Linked DNA regions of Homo sapiens: region 2 is linked to region 1. Evidence: fine-mapped expression QTL. Tissue or cell type: subcutaneous fat. Region 1 holds a variant in brackets; the other region holds the start of a gene. All regions are shown on one strand. Distances are from middle to middle.

Region 1 (8,378 bases):
AGGCTTGTGCATTCATCATGTAGTTCTCCTGCCATGGTTTTCAGCTGCATCAGGTCCTTTAAGGACTTCTCTGCATTGATTATTCTAGTTAGCCATTTATCTCATCTTTTTTCAAGGTTTTATCTTCTTTGCCTTGGGTTTGAACTTCCTCCTTTAGCTTGGAGTAGTTTCATTGTCTGAAGCCCTCTTCTCTCAACTCTTCAAAGTCATTCTCTGTCCAGCTTTGTTCCACTGGTGGCAAGGCACTCCATTCCTTTGGAGGAGGAGAGGCACTCTGATATTTAGAATTTTTATTTTTTGTGCTCTGTTTTTTCCCCATTTTTGTGGTTTTATCTACCTTTGGTCTTTAACGATGGTGACGTACGGATGGGGTTTTGGTGTGTATGTCATTTCTGTTTGTTAGTTTTCCTTCTAACAGTCAGGACCCTCAGCTGCAGGTCTGTTGGAGTTTGCTGGAGGTCCACTCCAGACCGTGTTTACTTGGGTATCAGCAGTGGAGGCTGCAGAACAGCGGATATTGGTGGACAGCAAATGTTGCTGCCTGATCCTTCCTCTGGAAGTTTTGTCTCAGAGGAGTACCTGGCTATGTGAGGTGTCAGCTTGCCCCTACTGGGAGATGCCTCCCAGTTAGGCTACTTGGGGGTCAGGGACCCACTTGAGGAGGCAGTCTGTATGTTCTCAGATCTCAAGCTGCATGCTGGGAGAACCACTACTCTTTTCAAAGCTGTCAGACATGAACATTTAAGTCTGCAGAGGTTTCTGCTGCCTTTTGTTTGGCTATGCCCTGCCCCCAGAGGTGGGGTCTACAGAGACAGGCAGGCTTCCTTGAGTTGCGGTGGGCTCCACCCAGTTCGAGCTTCCTGGCCGCTTTGTTTACCTACTCAAGCCTTGGCAATGGTGGGAGCTCCTCCCCCAGCCTCACTGCTGCCTGGCAGTTTGATCTCAGACTGCTTTGCTAGCAATGAGCAAGGTTCCATGGGCATAGGACCCTGTGAGCCAGGTGTGGGATACAACCTCCTGGTGTGCTGTTTGCTAAGACCATTGGAAAAGCACAGTATTAGGGTGTGAGTGACCTGATAATCCAGGTGCCATCCATCACCCCTTTCCTTGGCTAGGAAAGGGAATTCCCTGACCCCTTGCACTTCCCGGGTGAGGCAATGCCTTGCCCTGCTTCAGCTCATGCTTGGTGGGCTGCACCCACTGTCCTGCCCCCACTGTCTGACAATCCCCAGTGAGACTAACCTGTTACCTCAGTTGGAAATGCAGAAATCATTTGTCTTCTGCATCGCTCACGCTGGGAGCTGTAGACTGGAGCTGTTCCTCAGACTTGTTTTTTTTCTAAGATAAAAATACTTTAATGTGTATGCTGTTTTCTTCAGTTAATAATTTGAAAAGACTGCATTTATATGGTGAAATTCTCAGGACCCTCAATTCTTTATAGATAGGCTAAATTATTTGTATCATTACTTGCAAACCTTCTTGAATGTGGTGGAGGTTATGTTAAGAAATAAAGTTTATATAATGTCTAATTTCATATTGTAATTGCATTCTTCCACAAAGTTTTTGAAATCCCTTGTATTTCAAACCCATCTGGAAGAGCAGGATCAGATTCTAATGTGTACAACACAGGATCCTCTCATCAAAATGATCAAGTGGCCTGTGTTTAGGATTTCCAGTGGCAGACCCACACACAATGCCTTTAACGAGGTATCCTGAAGTTATCACTATCCCTGAGCCAAAACTGAATGATGTCACAAAAGTTATTCGAGGCCTGAAATGATAAGTGGCAGCTGTTAATACTGACTAACCTGCATTTTCCATAAAAAGATGAAATGATGGGCAGAAACTACTTGATATAACAGAGAAGTCAGTGGATGAAAAGAGAGCTACCAACACAAACTCAGTAAAAATACTTTGGAAATACAGTATATTGATCCAAATTTTAAAAACAAACATAAAATGAAAGGAGTAAGAAGAATTATAGATGCTTACTTAGAAGAGTCGATTTAAGAAAATTCCCAAAATGTATTTATAAAGAAGCCAGACATAAGATGAAAAATAAACACAGGGAAGATTATTTAGAACAGAAAATGTCAACAAATACATTTTAGAAAGCGAGTCTTGAGAAATTAGTTTCAGAATATTGCAAAAATAAAAAAAATTTCTGTTTGGAAGAAGAATCTGGGAGACAGCACATGTACTAAGAAATAGATCAGTGCAATACCCTTGAGGCTTTTATGTGGGTTCCTGACTATCTTATTGGGATATATAATTGTGGCCACTCATTGTAAGTGGGAGTGATTAAAAATTTTTCCTAGAAGAATAACTGAATGTAGTGACTCATGTCTGTTATCCCAGGACTTTGGGAGGGTGAGTTGGATGGATCCCTTGAGGCCAGGAGTTTAAGACCAGCCTGAGCAACAAATTGTGGATCCATCTCTTCAAAAAATTTTTAAATAAATTAAAAAATAATAAACGGGCATGGTGGGTGTCATGAACCTGTAATTCAAGCTACTCAAGTGGTTGAAGTGGGGGGAATCCCAAGAGCACAGGAGTTCTAGGATGCTGGAATCCATGATCAGGACACCACCCTCCAGCTTGGGTGACAGAGCGAGAGCCTATATTTATATATATATAATCTTGTAAGACATAAAGTCCAAACTGTATCTGATCAAACATTCTAATAAAGGGGAAGAGCAAGAAAAAATTCTTAAAGACATGAAGTAGGATGGCTCATTCAAGAACTTCTATTCATTCTGTTCATTTCTAGAAACCTCTGGTAGATTTTGTGTCCAACTTTGTTTTAACCTCTCCACGAATATTAATAATAGAATTCGTTAAGACACCTGTATCCTAAAACACCGAGACTTTTCTGATCGGAGCCAGATCCAAGGAATATTGGACAATCTGTGTGGGTCCGACCGGGCTGAGGGCCAACCTTCTGTCAGCCATGAATGGCCAGGTTTGTGTTGTCTGCACATAGCTCAAAGTTCTAAAGACATAACCTCTATATAATCAAATATTTAGCGAAATATGATAGGCATAGGTATACAAAACTCCACAGCCAACCTACCTCTTGTTCCTTAGAATATGATTGTGTTCAGAAAATAGCCCTAAGAAGAGGTGATCAAGCTAAAATGAGGGAGTTTCAGTGGAACTAAATCCAATAAGATGAATGTCCTTAGAAAAAGTGGAAATTCCTTATAAGAACTGGAAATTTGCACACAGAGAGACACAAGAAGTACGTAGGCACAGACGCAGCCCCATGGGAGGACACAGCAAGAAGGTGATATCTAGATGCCAAGTAGACAGGGCCAAGAAGAACTGGACCTGCTGACACATTCACCGTGGAACTTGAGCATCCAGAAGTGTCGGAAAATAATTTCTGTTGCTTAAGAATATTAGTCTGTGATATTTTGCTTGGACAGGTATAATGAAGAAATTCAGGGGAGAGCAGGTTTTAGGAGGCAGAAATTAAGAGTCCTGCTTAGTGCAGGAGTGTAATGTAAACGGTATGGTTACATTATTTTAAATGGCAAGTGGATTGCTGACGTCCTTGACTCATGGACAAATGCCTAAGCTTTTGTTGCCATCTTGCTCCTTGCTTTTACCCCATCCTAAATCAGTGACACTGTCTCCATCAGTTCTTTGGTAACCTCTATTTTGCTTGTCTCTGGTAGCTTGATATCTGATATTTAGTCCTTCCTGATATGCTAATCTCTTTCACTCATTTCTGACATAGGAGAAGGTCAGGGCATGAGTTGAGTGATATTTGGAAGGATCACCTCTTGCCTTGCTGTACTCAGCAGACAAGGAGAAGTCTGTCTCTAACCAGGACTGCAGCTTCCCCACTGATTCCCACAAGGAGTCACATCTGCCTGGCTCTCCCCTCTGCTTCTTCTCTCTTGCGTTTCTTTCCTTCCTGATGGGCCACCATAAGCTACCTAGGCCAGACTGCCCATCAACAGCTTCCTTTTCAAACAATGTTTGGTGAAACCAGAGAAAATCATTCAATAACATCAGGACACCAGATTGGCCCAAGCACTCTGTGTCTCTCTGAAAGAATGTGAATCTCAGTTACAAATGTTAAACTTTCTATGTAACTGGAGAATATTTGGCCACTGGTATTATATTCCATCTTCAGAAAACATCCCTATTTATCCTAAGAGAAAAACAAGACAGCAATCTGCCTAGTCAGCTGCAAAATTCTAAGTTACCTCTAGTAGAGCTTATTGTATCAGGATGCCTTCCTATATGCAGTGGGTTGTTCAAATGTTGAAGGAAAAGGTATATCCTATTAAGAAACACCATGAATGGATTCCAATGTTTTGGCACCAAAATGAAATCATAATCTTTTGCTATAACATGTCTGAACAGGAGCTAGTATGAGGCATCAAGAAAAATAAGAGCAGTTTCAAAAGAGCCCCTAGAAGACCAACATGAATTTTTCTAAAATTAAAGTGAGTATAAACATCAAATTTATGGTGAAGCTTGGGTGGAGGAAGGCAAAATCATTGATGGTGTCCAAAGAGTTGTCCTACTTGACACGTGGTAAGTTGACATTGGTTGAAGAAGTCAGCAGTTCACAAATTCAATGAGGAGTTCATTTCAAGAAGGAATGAGGCAATGTTGAACCTAAAGCTTATCGT[G/A]ACAGATGATTCACATCATATTGCAAGGAATAAATTCATCTTCTTTATACCCAGGAGAAGAGGTGTGATGATTAGCAGCTCACACAATAACCAACACTGCAGACTTCTCAGTTGGTTCAGTTTACATGAATCTAACTGAATGATTAAAGTTTAGTAAGCTTTTCACTTAATGGATGCCCAAACTGTGTCACCAAGATCAAGTACAGACAAGAGCAGAACTTTCCCTAAAAATTTAAATAGGAAGAACGAAGACCATAAGCATTTCTTCAATGAATTATAAGAGGAGATAACACATGACTTTACCAGTAAAATCCAGAAAACAAATACAATCAAAGCAATGGCTACCAAGAGGCGGAAATGTCCAGTCAAAACAAAAGTGGATGAGGAGAGCACAAAGATCTTGGCAAGAGTTTATTGGAAAGCTCAAGTCATTTTGCTGGTTGACTTTCTGGAGAATGACAGTATCTCCTTATTCTGAGAATATTTTGAGAAAGTCAAAGCTTTACTAGATGAATCCCTGGGAAAGCTTCAGCAGAGTCCTTCACCACAACCTTCCTCCTGCTCATTTCTCTTATCAAACAGGGCAATTATATGAGAGTTCTCATGGTAAATCATTAGGCTTTCACATTACTGAGAAGTGATGCCAGGTGGACTTCCTGGGTCCACTGTGGACTTGGAGAACTTTTCTGACTAGCTAGATGATTGTAAATGCACCAATCAGTGCTCTGGGTCTAGTTAAAGGACTGTAAATGCACCAATCCACACTCTGTAACAATGCACCCATGAGCCCTCTGTGTCTAGCTAAAGGATTGTACATGCACCAATCAGCACTCTATAAAAATGCTCCAATCAGTGCTCTCTGTCTAGCTAAAGGATTGTGAATGCACAAATCAGCACTCTGTAAAAATGAACCAATCAGCACTCTGTGTCTAACTAAAAGATTGCAAACGCACCAATCAGCAGCCTGTAAAATGGACAAATCAGCACTCTGCAAAATGGACCAATCAGCACTCTGCAAAATATACCAATCATCGGGATGTGGGCAGGGCCAAATAAGGGAATAAAAGCTGGCCAACTGAGCCAGCAGTGGTAACTTGTTTGGGTCCCCTTCCATGCTGTGGAAGCTTTGTTCTTTTGCCCTTCACAACAAATCTTGCTGCTGCTCAGTCTTTGGGTCTGCACTACCTTCATGAGCTGTAACACCCACGAGAGGGTCTGCGGCTTCATTCCTGAAGTCAGTGAGACCATCAACCCACTAGGAGGAACAAACAACTTTGGACACAGCTTTAAGAGCTGTAACACTCACTGAAAAGGTCTGCAGCCTCACCCCTGAAGTCAGTGAGAACAAGAACCCACTGGAAGGAAGAAACTCCAGACACATCTGCACATCTGAAGGAACAAACTATGGACACATCATCTTTAAGAACTGTAACACTCACTGCAAGCATCCGCAGCTTCATTCTTGAAGTCAGCGAGACCAAGAACCAACTGGAAGAAAACAATTTTGGACATATTACAACCCTAATTTGGTTTCTTTCATTTTTTTTTGTTTTGTAATCTTATAACATTTGTAAAAGGCATCCATTTTCCTTCAGTTAATAATGTAAAAAATACATATCAATAGCTGGCATGTTGACCAAAATGTATGACAAGTGGTCAATAATTTGTGTCTTTTTATATAGCTCATTAACAAGTAGGATTGGGAAATGGTTGTAAACTGAGTACCAGGTGGTAGAATTGAAGGAAACTTCCCATGTAACACTTTAGTTTTTGCTCTATTCCAAAGACAACAGGAGGTAAAGGGTTAAAGATGCCCCAAAGCTGTTGCACACCTTTGGGGAGACTTAAAATTCACGTGTTTATTCAGTTGAGTCTTAGGCTGTGACTACAATGCTTGAATTAGACAGTAAATGTGTCTTACTTACTTGCATGAAGACACTTTGTTCACATCTCTCTTATCACTTCTTTTCCTCTACTCGGATCTCAGTTCCTTTAAGGATTCGGGCTGGGCCTGAGATGACCTGGCTCAAAAAGGACTAAAGGCCCTACGTACTCATCTCCAAATCTTGCAAAAATATCAAGGAGGGTAGAAACATAAGTATTTATAGCTCTATTGCCTATACTTGCTCAATTCACCATTGTACTTGATTCTGTCAGAGTAGGGGAAGGTGTGCTGAGGATACAGGAAAGAGCTACAGTGGCATATAAGGGGAAAGAAAGGAAGAGACTGCAAGTCTGTTGAATCCATAGACACTGGAGTTGTGTTTAAACGAGGTAGACCCTGGGGCTAGAAGCCAAGGTGGGGGGAAAAAAGCTTTTCAGTTGCAGTAGTCATTTATTATTATTATTGTTATTATTAGTATTATTATTTCTTTTTAGAGACAGGGACTTGTTCTCTCACTTAAGCTGGAGTACAGTGGTGCAATCATGGCTCACTGCAGTCTTGAACTCCTGGGATCAAGCAATTCTTCCAGATCACCCTCTGAATTAGATGGCACTACAAGTGCCAATCGCCATGCGAGGTTGATTTTGTAAATTTTGTTGTATACATGGGGAGATCTTGCTATATTGTTCAGGCTGATCTTGAATTCCTGACATCAACAATCCTCCAATCTCAGCCTCCAAAAGTAGTGGGATTACAGTCATGAGCCAGCATGCTGGGTGTATAGTCACTCTTTCTACCTCAGCCTCATTTTCCTGCATTCTGTAAATCCCCATCAGAAGAGAGCAGGGCTGCCTGGCTACTGGGATAGCCTCTAAGAAGCCAATGTTAAACTCTGTGGTTCTTGTAGAGGAAAAGAAAAAAGAAGTCCTTGAGTTCAATTGAGCTTTGAGAAAATGGGGTACAAAACATGAAAAGTTAGGAAGACATTGTGGATAAGGCCCTTGGGACCCATTCAGCACACTTTTCTGTGTTTTTAATTTTATAAGTGTGTATTATGTGAAATACTTACACTCTTATCTCATAAGAGCCAAGGAGAATCATCCACATAGAAGCTTCAAGCAGAATAACGTCAGTGGGATTAACTCTTCTGCCAGTGGAGCCAGTGGGTGGATCACGATGCAGCCTGAGTGCCTCCACCCTTCAATGTCCAAAGCTTGCCTTGTTGAACTTTTTGTGTATTGTAAACACAGAAAAATGCCCATGTGAGGCATAAAATTGAAAATTACTCAATATACTTTTACAAACCGTAAACAATTGACCAACTGTTAATGAAGGGTATAATCAAGATACGACAACCTTGAAACAACTTGGATATGGAAATGATCAGACTTTAAAGCAGCTCTTATAGCCAACTTTTCTGAGGTAAATGTGAACACTCTCAAAATAAATGGGAAAAAGCTTCTCAGCAGAAAAAGGAACTATAGAAAATAATAAAATAGAAATTTCAGAACTAACATATATAAGTCTAAAATTTGAAAAAAGACCTTATAGACTGTGAAAGTTTTTCAGAAAGTAAATGATCAAGGTGTTTGAAGACAAAAAACTAAATTAACCAAGTCAAATCCAAGAAGAGACATCTTAGAAGAAATGAACCTGTTAACACCTTGATCATGGAATGTGAGCCTCCAGAACTGTGAGAAAATTAATTTCTGTTGTTCAAATTACACAGTGTGTTTTGTTTTTTTTAAGGGCAGAGATAACAAACTACATCAGGGGAGAGCAGTTTAGGATGCAGAAATCAAGGATCTTATTTGGGACATGTTATGTTTGCATCCATATTAGAA
Region 2 (8,378 bases), 380 kb after region 1:
CTTTCTGGATATTTTTAAAACTCAGCTTAATTTCCCTAGGTGCTCCATTAACCTGATGGCAGAAATTAAATCTTAAGCAACTCTGGGTTCTCCCACAAGCACACTTTGCTTCAGAGTTGTGCTGAAGTTTTGAGGAGGATGGGAGGAGGCAAGGAGGTGTCCAGTCCTTTGTGCATCTATCCCCTGGCATTCTCCCATCCTGCCCCAAGTCATCAGCCCACACAGGTTGCTGGCACATCTAAAGTGAGAATTTTAGGACTAAATAAATCAAATAGAAGTAAGCCCTCACATCTTCTATATCTCACCTGATAGTGAAGAAGTTTGAAGGTACAGAGCTCCACTTCTGCTAATAAAAAAAGAGTAAAATTTAATTTGTAAAATAGAATGGTGTAGCTAGGGTTGAGGTGCTATAATTTATTTATTGGAATGGCATCTTGAGATCCAGCACAGCTCATTGAATTTCCCTGTGGGGAGAGTTTGTGGTGAAGACTCATCAACAGACAAGCTGCTATCCCCCCCTAAAAAAAAAAGCTACTAACATCACATCAATTTCCAGGTTCTTCCAACTTGCGGAAGGATGTGTAGACCAAGCTTTTATTCTATTTTGTGACCAAAGTCTTGGGAAAAGAAGAAAATTGTTAGCATTTTCATGTCAAGCATACGAAAAACAAAAAAACAAAGCCAACCAACTGAACAAAGAACCCAACTTTTTTTAAAAAACTTGGTGGTAAGAGTGCTTTGTTCTGCTTCTCCATAGATAATGATTTATAGAAGGAGAACAAAATATAATTTCTGCTACTAAAACAATAATAGCAAAAAATAAATAATCAATATTGAGAATCCAATAGACAGAGTTAACAACCAGTTAGACATAGAAGAGAGAATTAGTGAATTGGAAGACAACTATAAAGAAAGAAGCCTAAAGAGACCACAAGACAAAGAATGCCAAGCTAAGAGGATAAGAGGCATTGATGCTACAATCAGAGCATCTAACATACTTCTGGATTTCTGGAAGATTAAAAGGGATAAAATAGGGCAGAATCAATGTTGTGGAGATTTTCCCAAAAGTGATAAAATGTATTAATCCATATATTTTTAGTAACCATCAAAGGTCAGACAAGATAACTAAAAACAAATTAACATAAAATGTCACAAGACATCAAAGACCAGTAGAAAATCTGAAAAGTAGCCAGAGGAAAAGATAGATTATTTTAAAAGGAACAACTTTCTAAATGACAACCTGATTTTCAACAGAAAAATGGAAAGTAGAATTCAATGGAATCATGTCTTTAGTGTGTTTCAAAAGAATAGAGGACCTTCATAAACAGAAATCCAAATGATATTTTTCAGATAAAAAATATTGAAAATACAAGGTTAAGCATGCAAGAAGGAATAAAAATTAACAGAAATGATAAATATGTGCATAATTCTAAATGAATGTTGACTGAATAAAATAATAGCGTCTTGCTGAGTTAAATATATTATTGATAAGATATATGCAAATAGCGATAAAGAGACTGGAGGTAAAGGTGACAGGAACAAATTTAGATAAATTATTTTTTGCACTTTTCTATGTCTGTGAGGATAATTTGAACACCACATTTAATGACCCCATAATAGGAATTGCATCAAATGATATGTGAAATAATGCTGATAGTAGTATTATTCATAATAGCTCAAAAATAGACTGCCCAAATATATATTAACTAAGGATGATTGAATGATATGAAAGATTACAGTAAATCCATACAGTGGAACAGTATATAGAGGTGAAAAGAAATGAATCACATGTACATGCAACTATGTAACTAAATTTCAGAAACATGATATCTAGTGCAAGAAGCCATGAACAAGAAGAACACACAGGACTGCACCTATACACAGTTCAAAGCAGGACAGACCAAGCTGTGGAGTTTAGGGTTGTGAACCTAGCTGGTAAAGTATAAAGAAATTCAAGCAAATGATCATCATAGATTATGAATATTGCTTATCTCAGGAGATGTGAATAAAGGTTTAGGGGCTTGGAAAGTGGCCTGGAAGTGGACCTAGTCTGTTTGCAGTGTTCCATGTCTTATCCTGCATGATGGTTACATAAGTGTTTATGATACATTGCTCTTACCTATTTTTGTTTTGGCCCATTTCTAAGTGTGCATTATAATTTTATTTAAAAAATTACAAATTGGGAGAAATGTCACGTAAAAATTATTAATTGCTCTGCTCATTATATACCTAGGGGGAAAATCCACCATTTACGTACATTCTTATACAACTCAAGAGAGCTAAAGTGAATTCTTATTTTAGTTGCAAAATGGAGAAATTTGAGATGCTGTTACCTACAGCCTCCAGATCTTTCCAAAAGTTTTCTTCTAGTTTTAGATATTCACCTCATATTACAAAAACTTTGATATTTCCAACCTATTTTTCCTTTGGCTCCTGAATTTCTGACACAACAAGGGCGCACATATTTCTCAAACTCTTGGATTAGCAGAGTACCTATATCACTTAGCTTTTTCTGCAAAAGAAACTTCTCCAAAACCACATTAGATATTTATATCTCACATGTTTTTGGATTCTGTTTTCTTAAGCTGGGGTTTGGTGGATGGCTCTGGTGATTTGAGATGGTCCAAGTTTTGCCTCTTGGATCTAGTTAGAGTTTGGCCGATTTAAGGCTGGATCAGGCAGGAGCCATATGATTCCATGAGTTACTCATTCTTATTCTGGGAACAGTGTGTTAGTGTGGACATGTTCTCATTATAAACCGGAAAGGAACAAGAAAGCCTAATGTGGAGGTCATCTCAAATTTCGATGTAAAGTGTAGTAATTTTCTGTTCATCAAAGCAAATTACATGATCGAACTCAGAGCCCTAGTGCAAGGTTGTCACTATGCCTGTGGTGGGAGGACACTGCAAAATTATGTGACAAAGGTCTGGTACTCAGGAATGTTTACAAGCTTGCAGGTAGCATTACCAAAAGCCTAAGCATGAGAGATATGTTTCATGAATATTATTCATTGGCTGAAAATCTGGCATGGGAAAAATAGGACTAATTCCACCAGGACGAGCTCCTGGAAACTCATTTTCCATGTCATAAGTTACAAGAAAGCAATTCCTTCCATCCTTGAAGAGTGAAAGTGTGTGTGTGTCTGTGTGTGTGTTTATGAGCTTGTTAATAGTGATGCCATATAGAAGTATTGGTTAACAGCAACCAAATTATAAGGAGTATTGGCTTTCCTGTGGTTTCCAAGAAAATCTTAGGTGATTTTGATAAAAAGTTTAGATTCTGTGTATTTAAATCTGGCTTTAAAAATAAATCCATAGTGATTTTGATCCTAGATTTCACCAGGCTCTTTTAACAATATATTTTTTGTGTCATCTATGTACTGGGTATTAAAATTTCCCCAACAACTGAAGGGCTGAACACAAATTATGGAAAGGTGAAACAAGGAAAAAATTGCAAAGCAATGAAAGAGGATATGTCTTTATTTGAATGCTAGCAAATGAGAATTCAGCTTTCCCTTCAACATCAGTATGAAAAATTTCAGCCTATAGCAAGAATAGAGACTTTATGAATAAGAATTAATTTGAGTTGTTTTGGGACTAACAGTATTTCCCATAAAGGCAGCATTGAACTCATTCATTAGTTTAAGCTGGTGCTTTTCTGTTGACATTGTTCACAGAATTTAAAAGTATAAAGAATGTTATTGGACATTCAGGAATCAAGTGCATATTTAACTTAAAGTCTTGAATATCAGAGGAGTCACCATCAGTGACATTAGGCCTGAATTTTTTACTTGCTTTTTTGTTTAGACATGATGAGTTTTCTACACATTGTTTTTTCCATTCTAGTAGTGGTTGCATTTATTCTTGGAAATTTTGCCAATGGCTTTATAGCACTGATAAATTTCATTGCCTGGGTCAAGAGACAAAAGATCTCCTCAGCTGATCAAATTATTGCTGCTCTGGCAGTCTCCAGAGTTGGTTTGCTCTGGGTAATATTATTACATTGGTATTCAACTGTGTTGAATCCAACTTCATCTAATTTAAAAGTAATAATTTTTATTTCTAATGCCTGGGCAGTAACCAATCATTTCAGCATCTGGCTTGCTACTAGCCTCAGCATATTTTATTTGCTCAAGATCGTCAATTTCTCCAGACTTATTTTTCATCACTTAAAAAGGAAGGCTAAGAGTGTAGTTCTGGTGATAGTGTTGGGGTCTTTGTTCTTTTTGGTTTGTCACCTTGTGATGAAACACACGTATATAAATGTGTGGACAGAAGAATGTGAAGGAAACGTAACTTGGAAGATCAAACTGAGGAATGCAATGCACCTTTCCAACTTGACTGTAGCCATGCTAGCAAACTTGATACCATTCACTCTGACCCTGATATCTTTTCTGCTGTTAATCTACTCTCTGTGTAAACATCTGAAGAAGATGCAGCTCCATGGCAAAGGATCTCAAGATCCCAGCACCAAGATCCACATAAAAGCTCTGCAAACTGTGACCTCCTTCCTCATATTACTTGCCATTTACTTTCTGTGTCTAATCATATCGTTTTGGAATTTTAAGATGCGACCAAAAGAAATTGTCTTAATGCTTTGCCAAGCTTTTGGAATCATATATCCATCATTCCACTCATTCATTCTGATTTGGGGGAACAAGACGCTAAAGCAGACCTTTCTTTCAGTTTTGTGGCAGGTGACTTGCTGGGCAAAAGGACAGAACCAGTCAACTCCATAGATTCACAAGAGGTGCATTGTGTGTTTTCTAGCAGAAAACAAATTGATGGTGTCTGGAACATTTTATATTTCCCACAAGTTTTTCCGTAGTCTATGTATTTGAGTAATTTCCAAAAGTTGACATAGAAAAGTCTTTTACCTAAGTTTATTATATAAAAGTATATATATATAATATACATTTGCGTGTGTGTGTATGTCTGAATGTATATGAAAATTTAATATTTACCATAACATACCTTTAATCAACTTTTCATATAAACTGTTCAGTTATACCAAAGTAGGATAAGAAATTTCTCAGAATTATGAACCCATGTGTATTTCACACATTTTTTTATATGATATTTCATTTGAGGAATTTATGATCTCTATTTATAATTAAGAACTGACAGCTTATATCAGAAAATCATTGCTGTTTTTCGTTGTAAAATCATTGCTGTTTTTCGTTGTAATTTGTATCACGTATATGTACCATAGTGTGTTTAACTGTTTAACTATCATTGTTTGAACCTCTAATTTTTTGGATGGTAAGGACATTTAATTCTAAATCGATGAGAATGTGTCTTTGGGGTAGGTTTTTTTGTTTTTTTTTTAATCATGAATTCTTTTTTTCTTTTTTTTGAGATGGAGTCTTGCCCTGTTGTCCAGGCTGGAATGCAGTAGCACAATCTTGGCTCACCACAACGTTCACCTCTGGGGTTCAAGTGATTTCCATGCGTCAGCCTCCTGAGTGGCTGGGACTCCAGGCATGCGCTACCACACGTGGCTAATTTTTTGTATTTTTCTTTTTTTTTTTAGTAGAGATGGGGTTTCACCATGCTGGCCAGGCTGGTCTCGAACTCTTGACCTCAAGTGATCCACTGCCTCAGCCTCCCAAAGTGCTGGGATTATAGACATTCATGATGAATTCTTATTTTATGTTTAATATAAAGCAAATACAATTATTGTTAGATAACAATGCACAAAATAAAATTCAAGGGTGAAAAATATATCTAGTGTACATTTTTATGTGTATCAAAAGCAATACTGAGGAATATTATATTTAATATAGTATGTTAATAGCTTAGAAAAAATCATTTCTATAAAAAGGATGAAGAAACATGATCATGAGCTCTTTTCAGTGCTGTTATAAGTTTCCATACGCAATTAGAAAAGTCATCTCTTCCAGTTTTTGAATTAAACAAAAACCTTTTTGAAGTTGAGATCTGATGTTATATATTTCAGTTTTTTGTCTAAGCCACCTCTGAGCTCCTGAATTGTCAATTTCCTCCTTTATCTTCCATCCTTAAAATTCCTCAAAAAGCTCAAATTTTCCTTACTTTAAAAAGAAGCTCAATCTAAAGAGGGTATAGAAACTATGGCATCTATGAAATCTATATATTAATGATAGGAAATGTCTTAAAGATATGTTTTATTATAATCTTGGTGTAAATAATGAAATGAGAGAAAGTGTGTTGACATATTCACTAATAGCAAGTTCTATTACAAGAAGAAAATGTATAACCTAGTTCAACAGCTAAATTCTGTGTGACTGTATTAATTTCTGGTGTTATGCAATTTTAACAATATTATCTAAACCTTAAGATAAATCATCTCCACATCTGATTTGTTTGTTTATCATATATCTTACCTGGTACAATGTAAATACCATAAAAGTAGAGATCATATAGATCTTGCTTACTGTAGACTCCCAAGACATAAAGATAGCACATAGAATAGGTATTGAAAAATGATACTTTGATGAACAAGTTAATTGGTGAATGAATGAATATGAACTATATTGGGGTGGTGAACCAATGAAAATGTAACACATCACAAAATCTACAGTTGGGTGCACATTTCTGTTCTGGTTTCAGATTGAAGTTACAGGATTATCCAAGAAGAAGAAGAATTTCTCAGAGCAAAAGTTTGGCTATTCCACAATTCTAGGGGAAATATCACTATAATATAGCAGTGATGCAGCTATATCAGATGTGTGACACAAAGACAAAGTGGAAAATAAAAAGATGGCATTTATTACAATACTTTTTACTAAGCATATAAAAGATTTTTGTATAAGTGCACATATCTTTTCTATTGCGAATGATATATTTATATTGTGGTATTTCTAGCTGGTTATTATATAAACAAAAATGACATTTCATTTAAAAAATTTAGTTACCAACTATCTTACTAAAATATAATCTTTATTTAGTATTTTTAATATCCTTTCTAAATGACCACTTTAATCACCATATTATAAACTGATGGAAAAATGAATGAATAATAATTATAACACTGAATGAATATCTTATCAGGGGTCTAGAAGTAGAGCAAATGTCTGATATTAAAGTGATGACATTTATTTGGAAGGAGGTCCACTGCAGAAATGGCTGGGACATGTGGAAATTGAGTCAAGAGAAGATGTGACACTATGTGCTGTAATGTGTGATATGACTCTGCTGACGACCACTTCACAATGATGTGAGAGAGACAGCATGGTGGTTATCAGATGCATGCACTTGGCTCCCAGGACTTTTTCAGAAGGGCTGCGAGAGGACAACACAGCCAGCATTAGCCCATGGAAGCAACAGAGGACGGAGAATATATCTGCTCAGCTGTCTTCTGTCTTCTATTTCCCACTGGCCAGGGTTTCCCTGAGGCAGAACTACCATCTCTGCTGTTCTGCTTTCCATCATCCAATCCCTTGATGGAGGTTATGAAAGTCAGACCTCATGCCCACAATGTGGTGATCCATTCAAGTCCCAAATGGAAGGGTGATGTGGGTCAGGCAAGGTGCTGACCAGGGGAATAGGAGACAGTCAAGTAAATCTGAGGAAGCACATGTTTGTGTCCCATGCAGTCCACTCCTTGTGCCATTCAGATGTGCTCATGCCCTCCAATCATGGCTGACTATGAGCATATAATTTCCACTGTTGCACAGGGTCTTGTGCTTAGAGACGCACACGCTTAGAAGGGCTTTATACATGGGTTAATTTTCTGCACCTGCTGTTTTGTTTTTGAGACAGAGGGCACTCCTCTGCTAAAGAGGGAATGGTCTTGCACTAATTGGCTAGGGGTTTGCTCTCCCCTCTCCTGTGGGCTTGTGAGAAGCATGCACAGAGTCTTATAATGCCCACTATGCATGCATGCCTCTAGCGGGTTTGAATTCTGCTGGATTATCTGTCACAATGAGCACAGCAGCTTGGACTAGAGCCTACATTTGCTAGAGGCATTTTTTGTTCTAGTTCCACTTGAGACCAGTAGCCTTTGGCAACTTCATTAGTGAATCAGAGCAGTATCCTCAAATGTGGAATACGTTGGCTCCCAAATCCCAGTAGGCCCAACAAATATTGTGTCTCATTTTTAGTGACAGGAAATAGATGTATAGAGAGCAACATGCTGTTTACTTTAAAAGGGTGTTTCAGCATGTGGACTAGGAGCACTGGACCCCTAAAATCATCATCTATGTTATAGGTCACTGAATCTTCTTGTTCATCTTTCTTCTTCTGGTATTTAGTTCTGTTCAATGTTATGGTATTTTACTATATTTGAGAAACTCATCACTTCCTGCTTATGGGTAACAGTTAATGCAATATTATTAATATATTGAGTTAGCATGATGTTTTGCAAAATGCCAATTAAACTGAAAACAGAAGTGACGT

What was found. PIP is the estimated chance that this variant, and not a neighbour inherited with it, causes the effect.
Region 2: TAS2R20 starts here. The variant in region 1 is fine-mapped to the expression of TAS2R20 in subcutaneous fat (FUSION, PIP 0.95).

What each region holds. Positions count from the first base shown.
Region 1 is chr12:11,370,137-11,378,514 of GRCh38, reverse strand. No RefSeq gene overlaps it. Among named protein-coding and RNA genes, the nearest start is that of PRB2, 21 kb to the left of the region's middle. The variant G/A (reference allele first, on the strand shown) is at 4,650.
Region 2 is chr12:10,993,306-11,001,683 of GRCh38, reverse strand. TAS2R20 (taste 2 receptor member 20) reads left to right here and starts at 3,380. Exons shown (of 1, transcript NM_176889.4): 1 at 3,380-5,723. The coding sequence starts at 3,809. The coding sequence ends at 4,738. All of the region lies in intron 3 of PRH1-TAS2R14 (PRH1-TAS2R14 readthrough), which reads left to right. All of the region lies in intron 3 of PRH1-PRR4 (PRH1-PRR4 readthrough), which reads left to right. It also overlaps a transcript of PRH1 not described here.